Homo sapiens: one gene and its partners. The protein of the gene in region 2 interacts with the protein of the main gene of each other region in a biochemical or structural test. Each region holds a gene or a part of one and is shown on either strand. Other genes may lie near its edges. The genes, in order: GNA12, CDH2 and LRRC7.

The links.
Region 1: the proteins of CDH2 (region 2) and GNA12 form a complex in vitro, tested with the Homo sapiens proteins (one study listed by BioGRID).
Region 3: the proteins of CDH2 (region 2) and LRRC7 form a complex in vitro, tested with the Homo sapiens proteins (one study listed by BioGRID).

Annotation. Positions count from the first base shown.
Region 1 is NC_000007.14:2,795,704-2,799,453, forward strand, and holds part of GNA12 (guanine nucleotide-binding protein subunit alpha-12), read right to left. Parts: intron 1-3,750. UniProt on the Homo sapiens protein: Guanine nucleotide-binding proteins (G proteins) are involved as modulators or transducers in various transmembrane signaling systems. Activates effector molecule RhoA by binding and activating RhoGEFs (ARHGEF12/LARG).
Region 2 is NC_000018.10:28,175,462-28,179,211, forward strand, and holds the start of CDH2 (cadherin-2 isoform 1 preproprotein), read right to left. Parts: upstream 1,670-3,750; 5' UTR 1,562-1,669; coding exon 1,502-1,561; intron 1-1,501. UniProt on the Homo sapiens protein: Calcium-dependent cell adhesion protein; preferentially mediates homotypic cell-cell adhesion by dimerization with a CDH2 chain from another cell. Cadherins may thus contribute to the sorting of heterogeneous cell types.
Region 3 is NC_000001.11:70,018,779-70,022,528, forward strand, and holds part of LRRC7 (leucine-rich repeat-containing protein 7), read left to right. Parts: coding exon 1-40; intron 41-2,226; coding exon 2,227-2,351; intron 2,352-3,750.

The DNA of each region.
Region 1 (3,750 bases), on a different chromosome or scaffold from region 2:
CTGCTATCATTCATTTGCAAAGCTACTGGAAAAAAGACAACTGGGCGGGGAGGAGGTGGCAACAATTTCAGAAAATTTCACTGGAAAATGAAGTGTATCAGTAAAAAAACAACTTTTTTTTTTTTTTTTTTCTTAGATGGAGTTTCACTCTTTTTGCCCTGGCCTGGAGTGCAATGGAGTGATCTCGGCTCACTGCAACCTCCGCCTCCCAGGTTCAAGCAATTCTCCTGCCTCAGCCTCCTAAGTAGCTAGGATTACAGGTACCTGCCACCAGGCCCGGCTAATTTTTTATTTTTAGCTGAGATTACAGACCACCACGGACTGCTAATTTTTGTATTTTTAGTAGAGAGGGGGGTTCCACCATGTTGTCCAGCCTGGTCTCGAACTCCTGACCTCAGCTGATCCGCCCGCCTCAGCCTCCCCGCCAAAAAAACAATGTTTTAACAACAACTATAGTAGCCTCCACCCCTTATCCGTGGCATAAGTTCCAAGACCCTCAGTGGATGTCTGAACGGTACCAAGCCCTACCTGTATTGTTTTTAAAGTTTAATTTAATTTATGAATTAGGCACAGTAAGAGATTAATAATAGCTAATAATAAAATACAACAATTATAACAATATACTGTCATGAAAGTTAAGTAAATATGGTCTCTCCTTCTGTCTCTCAAATGTGGTATCACCGTCCGCGCCTATTTTCCGTTGGCGGCTGGCTGTGGATAACGGGAGATGACTGTACTGCCAAGAGTACTACCAGCGCTACTATTGTCATCATCACTGAAATCTGGCAGCTCCTCTATTCCAAAAGATACAACTGCTTCTTCCAGCTTAAAACGGGTGGGAAAACATACAAATCCAGGCAGTCAGCAGTCATGAGACAGGAAAAGACTAAAATACGACAAGCCAAGTAGCCCGCCCACCAAAACGGGAGCCAGGGGATCATGTTCTAGATTTAACGTCACCATCGTTTGTGATGAGAAACTACTTTTCATTCTTTTGCTTGTTTCCTCATTGTTAAAGATAAAGTTAATGTTGTTCTGCCCCTTCTTACCTCATCAACAGGGTCAAAGGGATGAAGAAATAACTAACATAGTATTAGGGAATGCAGCCAGCCTTTGGAAAATATTCTCTCAGCAAAAACAGCACCCCCTGAGCAGTTAGGAGGTCTGTTCCACCATCCTTAGACTAATGTTTCGAAATCAGCAAGGCAGTGTTTATGAGAACTTCTGTGTTCTTCTGAGGGGCACACTGCATACTCTCTGGTATGGTCTACACTGGGGGTATACAGAGTGGTCAAGGGCCCTGAGAAGGCTATCAAGTACACATCTGTCCATCTGGAAAAGCCTTCTCATCTCAGAGCAATCTGAGGGACTCAGGCCAGCTGAGAGCAGCATCCCATCCTCCAGGACAGAGAAAACCAGGGTCACCTGCTCACTAGGCACTTATCTATGTTCCTTTTTTGGAGACTGGGTCTTGCTCTGTCACCCAGGCTGGAGTGCAGTGGCATGAACATGGCTCACTGCAATCTCGACCTTCTGGGCTCAAGTGATCCTTGCCCGTAGCCTCTCAAGGAGCTGGGACCACAGGCATGCCTCGTTACGCCCGGCTAATTTTAAGATTTTCGTAGAGTCAGGGTCTCACTATATTGCCCAGGCTAGTCTCAAACTCCTGAGCTCAACTGATCCTCTGGCCTTAGCCTTCCAAAGCACTAGGAATTACAGGTGTGAGCCACTGCATCCGGCCTTTTTTTTTTTTTCCTTTTTAAATAACAGTTTTACTGTGCTATAATCCATGTACCATATAACTCATCAATTTGAAGTGTACAACTTAATGATTTTTAGTTGGCACTTATCCTAAAAATCTTCATTTCTGACACCCAGGGCAGAGCAGATGAATCCATTCTGCCTCCTTCATCTCTCTCCTGCAGCATCAATTTGGTGCCTATAACTTCCACTTCTGCCTTGAACCACTGAGTCAGACGTAATGATGACCAAAGAGTAGTTGAAAGTCTCCTCCAGACCCAGCTGACCAGGACGGTCTGGTTAGAGATGCTCCCTGATTTTCCCCTCAGGACCTTGTCTGTCTGCCGTTGGAGACCATGCCTAGTTCTACCAATCCACAAACATTTGTTCAGTGTGTTTGTTTGTGGGGGAAACAAACTTTAAGAAGCAGTATCTGACCCCCAGAAACTCAGAGTCTGGCTAGAAAGACAAATGTATGGATAAAAAAAATACTTACCACCCACTCATGATTTTAAAAAACCTTTGCAAACTAGGAACAGAGAAATGCTTCAACTTGATAAAGAACACTGACAAAAAAACATACAGCTAACCTCATAATTAATGTGAAAGACTGAATGCTTTCCCTCCAACACTAGGAAAAGACAAAGATGCCTACTTCTGCTACTGCTATTCAACATGGTTCTGGAAGTTCTAGCCAGTGCGACAAGGTAGGAAAATGAAATAAAAGATCACACAGCTCAGGAAAAGCAGGGGGGAAAACAAATAGATTAGACACACAAAAAAAGAAAACACACAACTAAACCCATTTGCAGATAAAAAGATGATCTATGTTGAAAATCCCAAAGTAATCTACCAAAAAAACTCCTAGAATAAACAAATGAATCCAGAATAGTTGCAGGATATAATGTCAACACACGAAATTCAATTGTCTTTCTATATACTAGCAATGAACATGTGGAAAGTGAAATGAAAGATGTACTACTACTAACTATCACTAAAAAAACGAAACAGGTATAAATCTAACAAAATATGTGTAGGACTTATGTGCTGAAAACTGCAAAATGTTGAGGAAAGAAATTTTCAAAATCTAATAGATATACCACGGTCACGAATTAGAAGATTCAACACGGTACCAATATCCTTAAATTAATAAACAGGTTTAGCACAATTTCCATAAAATCCCAGCAGGATCTTTTGTAGATATAAATATGATTATTTGAAAATTTATATGAAAAAGCATTAAATTAGCTAAAGCAACTTTGAAAAAGAAAAGTGGGAACAATCAGTCTATCTGATTTTAAGACTTATTATATAGCTATGATAATCAAGACTGTGTGGTATTGGTGAGGTGACAGACCCACAGATCAATGGAACATAACAGAGAACCCAGGGATAGCCCCTGATACAGCTAGGTAATTTTTGTAAAAGTGCAAAAGCAATTAAAAAGAGGAAGCCTGGTCTTTTCAACAAACGCTGTTGGAGGAAGTGGACTTCCACAGGTAAAGAAAATTGGGGGGAGCGGGGGAGGGGGTGGGGAAGAACCTTGACCTAAACCTCACAGCTTATACAAAATCAAATCAAAATGTAGAACTATATATAACATAGGAGAATATCTTCAGGATGTAGGGTGTGCTCAAAGTTCTTAGATGTGACTCCAAATACATGATTCACACGAGAAAAATTATCAATAAATTGAACTTGATGAAAACGAAAATATTTTGCTCCGCCAAAGACCCTCTTAAGAGGCTGAAAAGAAGCTATGAACTGGGAGAAAATATTTGCCAACCACACATCTGCCATATCTGACAAAGGACTCATTTAGAATATACAAGGACATTCAAAACTCAACAGTTAGGCCAGGCACAGTAGCTCACGCCTGTAATCCCAACACTTTGTGAGGCTGAGGGGAGAGGATCACTTGGGGCCAGAAGTTCGAGACCAGCCTGGGCAACATAGTGAGACCTCGTCTCTACAAAAATATCAAACAAATTAGGCAGGCATGGTGGCACA
Region 2 (3,750 bases):
GAGAGCGTGGAGCCGGGCAGGGACAGGCGTGCCGCACCATGGCGCACCATGGACAGGGCTCCGCGCGGCGGCGGCCCACGACCGTCTAGGGGTTGCGGGAGAAAGCGCGAGAGACTGCGGAGGCCAGCCCCGTCCAGCCCCTGCCCCCGCCCCAGCAGCACTCACCCCCCGGCGGGCCGGAGCGCGCCAGGCCCTGACCCGTGAAGACCACGGAGCGGGGTAATCCACACCACCTGTCTCCACCCCCGGAGCAGGCACTTCCGAGCTGCGTCCGCACTTTTCGGGGCTGCCAGCTGGCAGTAGAGCACCTCTCCCCTTGCCCCGAGGGCGACAGGCAGGGGGACCCTCCGTGGATTTTCCTGCCCCGCGGCGAGGGTGGGCACGCCCCTTTCCCGCAACCTTCGAGGGACCCCACGGCAGGCGGAGACCGACTTGGGACCAGGGCACTGCACCCGCCCAGCTAGAGGGTCCCGGCCGAGGCTGTGTGAAGTGGCCTCCAGGCCTGGGCTGGCTGGTCGGGAGGAGCCTGGGGGCATCCTCGGGTTGGAGGCGGCGGAAAGTTGGGCTGCCCCCGGGCTGGGAACCCGCAGCGTGCAGTGGCGAGGGAACCTGCGCCCGGACTGGAGCAGGTGCTTCCTGCCGCGGAGGAGCCTCTTAGTAGAGATTAAATGAAAAGGCTCGCTGGCTCTCTCCCGAGGGTATGAAAAGTACGGAAGGCTCCAGGCAAAGGCGCCCCCGGGGCGCATATAGGGCACAGGCAGCCGGACAGAGAAAGGAGCAGCCGCGTAACGGAACTTCTCGCCCGGGGGAGATACTAGGCGTGAGAGGCCAGACTCGTTCTACAGGCAGGCGCTGACCGGCAGAGACTCCTCCGGGCAAGAGGGCCAGATTTTCTTTCCAGGTGGGACGAACACAGAATATTGTGAGGGCAAGAGAAGAAGAAAAGGAGGCAACTCCAGACTGGGATAAAGACAATAGGACAGTAGAGCCCTTGAGCACCGGGAGGCGCACGGGTGCAGGGTGGGGTAAGGTGGAGGCAAGTCCCGTAACTAAGACACCAGAGTGAGAATTCCTACTGTAAACTCGCGACCCATCCCTGCAGAAATAAACAAAAAAATTGGAGCAAAGTACTATGCGAGGGGCGAAAGGCACAGAAAACTGCAAAACCTGGGAGTTATCCTGCCTCACCCTCCTGCTGCCTGGGGACACCCCCCGCGAGCTTGCTCGGCCCCGAAGAAGGAGCAGAGGGGACCCGCAATCCAGCCCCTAGAGCCCCGCCAGGAAAGGCGCGAGAGACCTACTGGCCCCGGCAACCCTGCCCCGGCGCCCGGACGGAGCCCGATGCCTGCGCAGCTACCGGCCGCGCGGCGCGGCGCGGCGCGGCGTGGCACCTCCCTTCCCGGGTGCGCAGCCCGGCCCCGCAGCGGCGCGGGGAACAAAGGGACCCGGCGCCGCCCGCCCCACCCCGCCCGTGGCCCGGCCCGCGGGGACCGCCGCGTACCTGAAGCAGGGCCGCCAGCAGCGGCAGCAGGGTCCGCAGCGCTCCCGCTATCCGGCACATGGAGGCGGAGAGGGGCCGAGCGAAGAGCCGGAGGAGGCGGCGGCGGCGGCGGCGGCGGCGGAGGAGGAGGAGGCAGCGGCAGCACCAACAGCGGCGCGGAGAAACGGCTCCAGGCAGTTTCCACCCCCTTCCCTTCCCCTCCCCTCCCCACCCCCTTCTTCGCTGCTCTCCGCTCCCCGCCAATGGAGAGCGAGCTGATGACAAATAGCGGGCCGCGGAGTCCGCGGGACTCGCACCAGGAGTAATAAAACAGACCCAGAGATCAAGGAGCTGGGGAGGGGGCGGGGGAACAGGGAGGGAGAGCGTGTGAGCGTCTGCGAGTGTGTGGAGGCGGCTGCTGTGGCAGCGCAGGCGGCTCGGCTCCGGCCCGGAGCGCAGCGGAAGCCGCGAGGGATGCAGCGGCGGGGACCTTGGCCGGTGGAGGATGTGGAGGTGGAAGTGGAGCGGATGGCGCTCCCCAAGAGCTCCGCCACGCGAGGTTTCGGGCTCGTGGTTTTGCTTCCTCCGGGTCCCCGCTCCAGGGCCGCTCGGCGCGACGAAGACGCCGGGGACAGCGCCGCGGGGAGGGCGCTCCGGGTCGTGCGTGCTGCACCCACAAAGAGCAGCAGTCCCGCCACTCCGCGCCTCCGCTGCGTGGGGGCCGAGGGGCGCTTCTCGGCTCCTCTTTCCGGTCCCCCGGCGAGTTGGAGACTGTTCTCCGGCCTCGGCCGCAAGGGGGTGAGGCGAGGGGCCGGCGCGGTCTCTCCCGCCGCGGCTCCGTCCCGCGCAGCTGCTGCCGCAGCCGCCCCTGCTGCCCGCGCACCGGCACCCGCCCGCCGGTCCTCGCCCTGCGCCGCTCACTCGCGCGCGCCGCCCTCCGTCGCCGACCGCGCACCCCGCTCGGCCTCCGCTGCGCGACCTGGGCGAGCCGCCGCCGCTCTCCCCGCGCTCGCCCCACGCGCTGCCTGGCTGCGCGGCCCGCTCCCCTCTCCTATTCCTCCCGCCGCCGCCGCCGCCCTCGCCCCCGCCTCCCTCCTCCGCCGAGCCTCCCCGCCCGCGTCGTGGCCAATCGGAGGCCACCAAGCTGCGGCTGTAGCCGGCCGGATCCGCGGCAGCCGCCCGCCCCCGCCCCGCCGAAGCGCCCCGTATTTTGCTGCAGCCCGCGGGGGGTCGCCGGAGGGAAGCCTAGAGTGCGCCGAGCACCGCCCCGGCAGGTGGAGGGGCTGCGGGAAATAAAATAACTTGGGCAGGAACTTGATTGGTAGCAGGTTCATCTTTGGTCCGCGGTAGGGAATCTAATGGAGATGAAGAATGGTGGGGAAGGGGGGGCGGTGTCTCCTTGGGAGCCTAACGTACGCTTCTTTATTTTGTCATTCTTTGGAGATGGGTAATCTTTCCTGGCAGGGGCAGACACAGCAAACTAAGGACGCAGGCCAAGCTCATCCTAGCTATTGTTGTCTGAGGCGCTCGCCGGGAGCCACCTGCGGGCGGGGGAGGGCGGAGGCCGCGGCTCCTCTCTGGAGCTCGCACCTTCAGCTCCCACCCTTGAGGATGTACTGGAACAGCCCAAGTTTTTGTGTTCTTGTTTTGTTTTCTTTTGTCCCCTCTGGGAGTTTGAGAGTGCATGTTTGTTATTTTATTTGAAATCTCCCGTTTTCTATTTCTATTACTACCTGTTAGTGGTACTGTTCACATTTGGGGCCAACAGTTTCAGGGTACTTTTACCCTCTCCTACCACCCCTAACAACAATTTTTAAAAAAGAGAGAAACTAAAAGCCGGAACTTGAGAAAATAGGATTATATAAAAGATAAAATGACTGATACAGAATTCTCACCACGTAAAGGATTTCTGCTGGCTTCCTTTAAGGCATGAACTTCAAGTGCAACACAGTGAGAGACTTTACAAGTTTGAGTCACAAGCATTTGTGGAATGGAGCGGGGGATGGGGAGCAGTTTTTGTTTTTTCTAATTCTGGTGAGGTAATAAATTTTCCGGAACCTTTTTTAAGAAAGGTTTACAAGTAAATAGAAATATCCGTTTTATGTAAGCTTTTCAACACTTGGGAGATCGGTGAACTTCATTGCAGTTAATGAATATTTTCTGCCTTTATTGCTTGCTTTTCTGCTTTGGGTGACTGAAATATTAACTTTATTTGAGTTTCAAGATACCGATCATTTAAGAATCTGATGATGAACCTTTAAAAACCAGCT
Region 3 (3,750 bases), on a different chromosome or scaffold from region 2:
ACTAACTACATGTTTCCCCAGCAGCCTCGTGGTGATGAAGGTAAATTGTCAGTAGAAATTTCTTCTCTACTTATAATGATTATGGATAGAAATAACTAATTTTATTCAGATCTCTGGCCAGGAGTACTGGCACATGGACAAGCTTATAAAGATAATTACATGACACACAAATATCATTTGGGGATGTACTTTAAGCATAAGTCTTATTTTCTACTCTATTTTAGATAAGCTTCCAAAACAAAACTCTTCATCTTTATATCTTACATAAAAATAATGTTGATTTTTAGGAGCAACTATTTCTCTTTATGGATTGCAAGACACATGACTAGTAAAGCAGATCTGGTAACCAGCTAATTGAAATGAGCTAAGAGCAGTCAGATCCTAAGGAAGTTTCAATGAACTGGTTTAGTTGCTGTGTTCATTTATTGCATGAACACAATTTAAACATCTAGTCCAATGATCTCTGGACTCAAATTATTTCATGGTCTAAGTCAACCATAAATAGATACTTGCAAATAAGACCATTCTTTCTTTTCAAGTTGAGTTTCCCTAACCAATATCCCTAAATCCTTTTTCAATAATTAAATCTTCTCTTCTATGATCACATTATTCATTTAAAAAGGTTAAAAGAGCTTTTTGTCCTTTGCTATTTGAAACTTAGCATAGGCTCCTTAGCCCAAGCCAACACAAGCTGATATGAACATTTTCTATAGTTATGGAGTAACAATAATTCTTGGAAGAGTAAACTTATTTTAATCCAGCCATGGATTAAATCTACTCAATCCATGTGAATGAGGCCAACTTGTAAAAGAAACCATTTGTTTATGTATTTCTTATTTCCAGGGATAATTATAATAAATGACTTTAGTCTTTGACCTCCAAATGTAAGTGAATCATTTTGGAATATTTTAGGATATTTTTCTTTAAATTTTGTCTACAGAAGTAGGAAAAGAAAAGATTGTTTTAATATGTATTTTTATAAGTCAATAAAATTAACCTTTTGAATTGATAAAAGAAAAACCACCATGTTTACACATTTTATAAGAGACATCTTAAGTAAGGATTATGTTATATTCATGCAGCTTTACTTATATTTTCATTTTAATAGCTCTACATTATCAAAATATTTAACTTCAAAAGAATATAGGGAAAAAGTGAAAAGTATCTCATATTCACTGGTCATTTCTGAGATATGATCTCACAGATTGAATCCCTAATTTGTCCCAAGGTAGATTCAGTTAGGTAAGGTGTAGTGTTAAGGAATTAGCCTAGCTGAGTTTGCTTTTGTTTTTGTTTTTTTCTTTGAGAAAAGAAAGGTTGGTAATTGAAAAGTTTCCTCGAACTTAAATTAAGTCATCCTTTGGTTTTCCAGGCAGGAGTGTAATAAATGAGTTTTCAGAATCCCTTGTAACAAAGAAAGACATATATGATAAAGGACCTCCTTTGGAAAAGAATTTAGCCTTAACTAAGTACTTTTATTGCATTTTCATGTGATCTTTGCCATAATGTTGCAAAGAAGATATTATCATTAGCCAACATTTTATGTAAAAAAAAGATTCATAAGCCATTTCCCTGTTAATTTGACATATTTAAACTAACTGCAACAGACTAAATTTTCCACGTTTTCTACCAAAAAACAAGCTCCCCTCATTGACCCCACAATAAAAGGAAAAGGTTGCAATCTTAGATACCTTATTGCAAAGTCAATGTTATGTGGTAACTTTTATAAAAGAAATTTGTATAGAGTTTAGCAGTTACAAATAAGGATTCTATTTAGACAGGAACAGAATCCTGCACTAGCCACTGAGAAGTCTCTTAACACTTTGAGCAAGTCCCTTAAAACTCATTAGTAAAGTAAGGATGAGATTAGTAATACCATTGTGTTGTTGTAAGGATTGAAAAAGATAACGCTTTAAAATGCTTGGTCTAACTCTCTATATTATTATTATTGTCCTATGGGGACCCCATTTCCTACACTAGAAAATTTCCCGATCCTGAGTATTTTAGGAATACTGAATTTGAGTTAAGATTACAAAAGACCATGTAATAAATATCAAGGGAATTTTATTCTTTTCTCTTTCCTTCTTTCTCTTTCTTTTTTTCTTTCTTTCTTCTTTATTTCCGTATTTGTTTGTAGTATCTATCACCATTTTTGCATACTATATTAAATACTTTGTGTAAAATTGTTTTTTAAAAAAACAATAATACTTTGGAATCTAACTGTAGATTTCCAGTCAGACAGTGACAGCTTTAACCCTACACTGTGGGAAGAGCAGAGACAACAACGCATGACTGTTGCCTTTGAATTTGAAGACAAAAAAGAAGATGACGAAAATGCTGGGAAAGTTAAGGTGAACCTTTTAGCTTTTGTTTCCTCTTTCTTCTCCTTATCTTTTTGTTTGTCCGTTTTTCTTATTCAGATAGATTTTGGGACAAAGTCAGATACTTCTTCAAGTCTCATGGCGGTACCTTTCATTACAGCATGCTGGTAGTTCTGGAAGCATTGGTGTGCTTCAGAATGAGACTAATGTCCCAAATCTGAGTGAGCAAATTTGAAATGCCACTTCATCCAACAGAATAACTGCATGAGAGAGATTCAAGCTGAGGGAAAGTAGAAAAAAAAATCTGTGTGATAGACTTCATCTAAGAACCTTATTTCATTGTTGACATGCTACACACTACGATGATTTTTTTTAATCACTGAGCAAAGCGTCATGCAGACTGAATAAGGCCAAAATAAACATTTCTGGAAGGGCCAACAGATTAATATGTTACATTGGCATTAAAATCTCTGAAAAGTTCTGTGTCCTTGGGCTATTCAAGAAGAATTTATGAGTTTCCTTAAATATGAGAACAAATTTTAAGGAAGATTAGTGCCTAATGGCAGGTGATGTTCCTTAGGGAACATAACTTCAATTTTTTTTACCTCAAAGTATGTTTTAAAAGATCTTTTATAGGGACTACTAGGTCAAGTAACAAGATTGAATTTTAAAATATGTATTTCTCCATTACTTACATTTTTAATTATCATCAGAATTGATTTAGATTTTCTCAACATCACATTTTCATGTTGGCATGGCAACATCTTGAATCTCTCATTTACTTTTTATAACATTGTATGTGTACTTTTTCTATCATGGCTACTAACAGCTCTCACTCTTAGTGACTAATTACCTTTATAATTGCATATGTGTTCTATTAATAAAGCTAGATTGTGTGTTATGTTTGTCTCTGTCCTCTCCTTTCCACATTTTCTAAACTTTATTTCTTAAATCAGCACATGAGCACTTACTGGCAAGGCCTACCAATATCGTTACGGAGAACCCAAAATGGATTCCCAAATCCAAAATAACAATTTTGTTAAAGATTTGGGTTTTAAAAAAAATGTCTCTAGATAGTTGATTAGTGCTGTCTAACAACCAAAGAGACATCTTTTTGAACTTGTGAATTCCTAGAAAAAATAATGCTAAACTGAAAACATACCTTCAGAACATTTCAGTTCTTTTACGGATTTTGTATGTTAAATCCAGAACCAATGGATGATGCATTCTATACCGGACTTCTGATTCATCTTTATATTTCATTGAATTACCAAAAATTGCATGCTTCTTCCTGAAATTCTGTATTCAAAGAATGCAAGAAGAAAGTGCATTTAATATACTCTGGTATATGTGTCAATGAAAACGTAAAATATAGTAAATACTTACAGTTATTTAGAAGCCCTGTTTGTGTGTTATGTGTTCAAGTTTG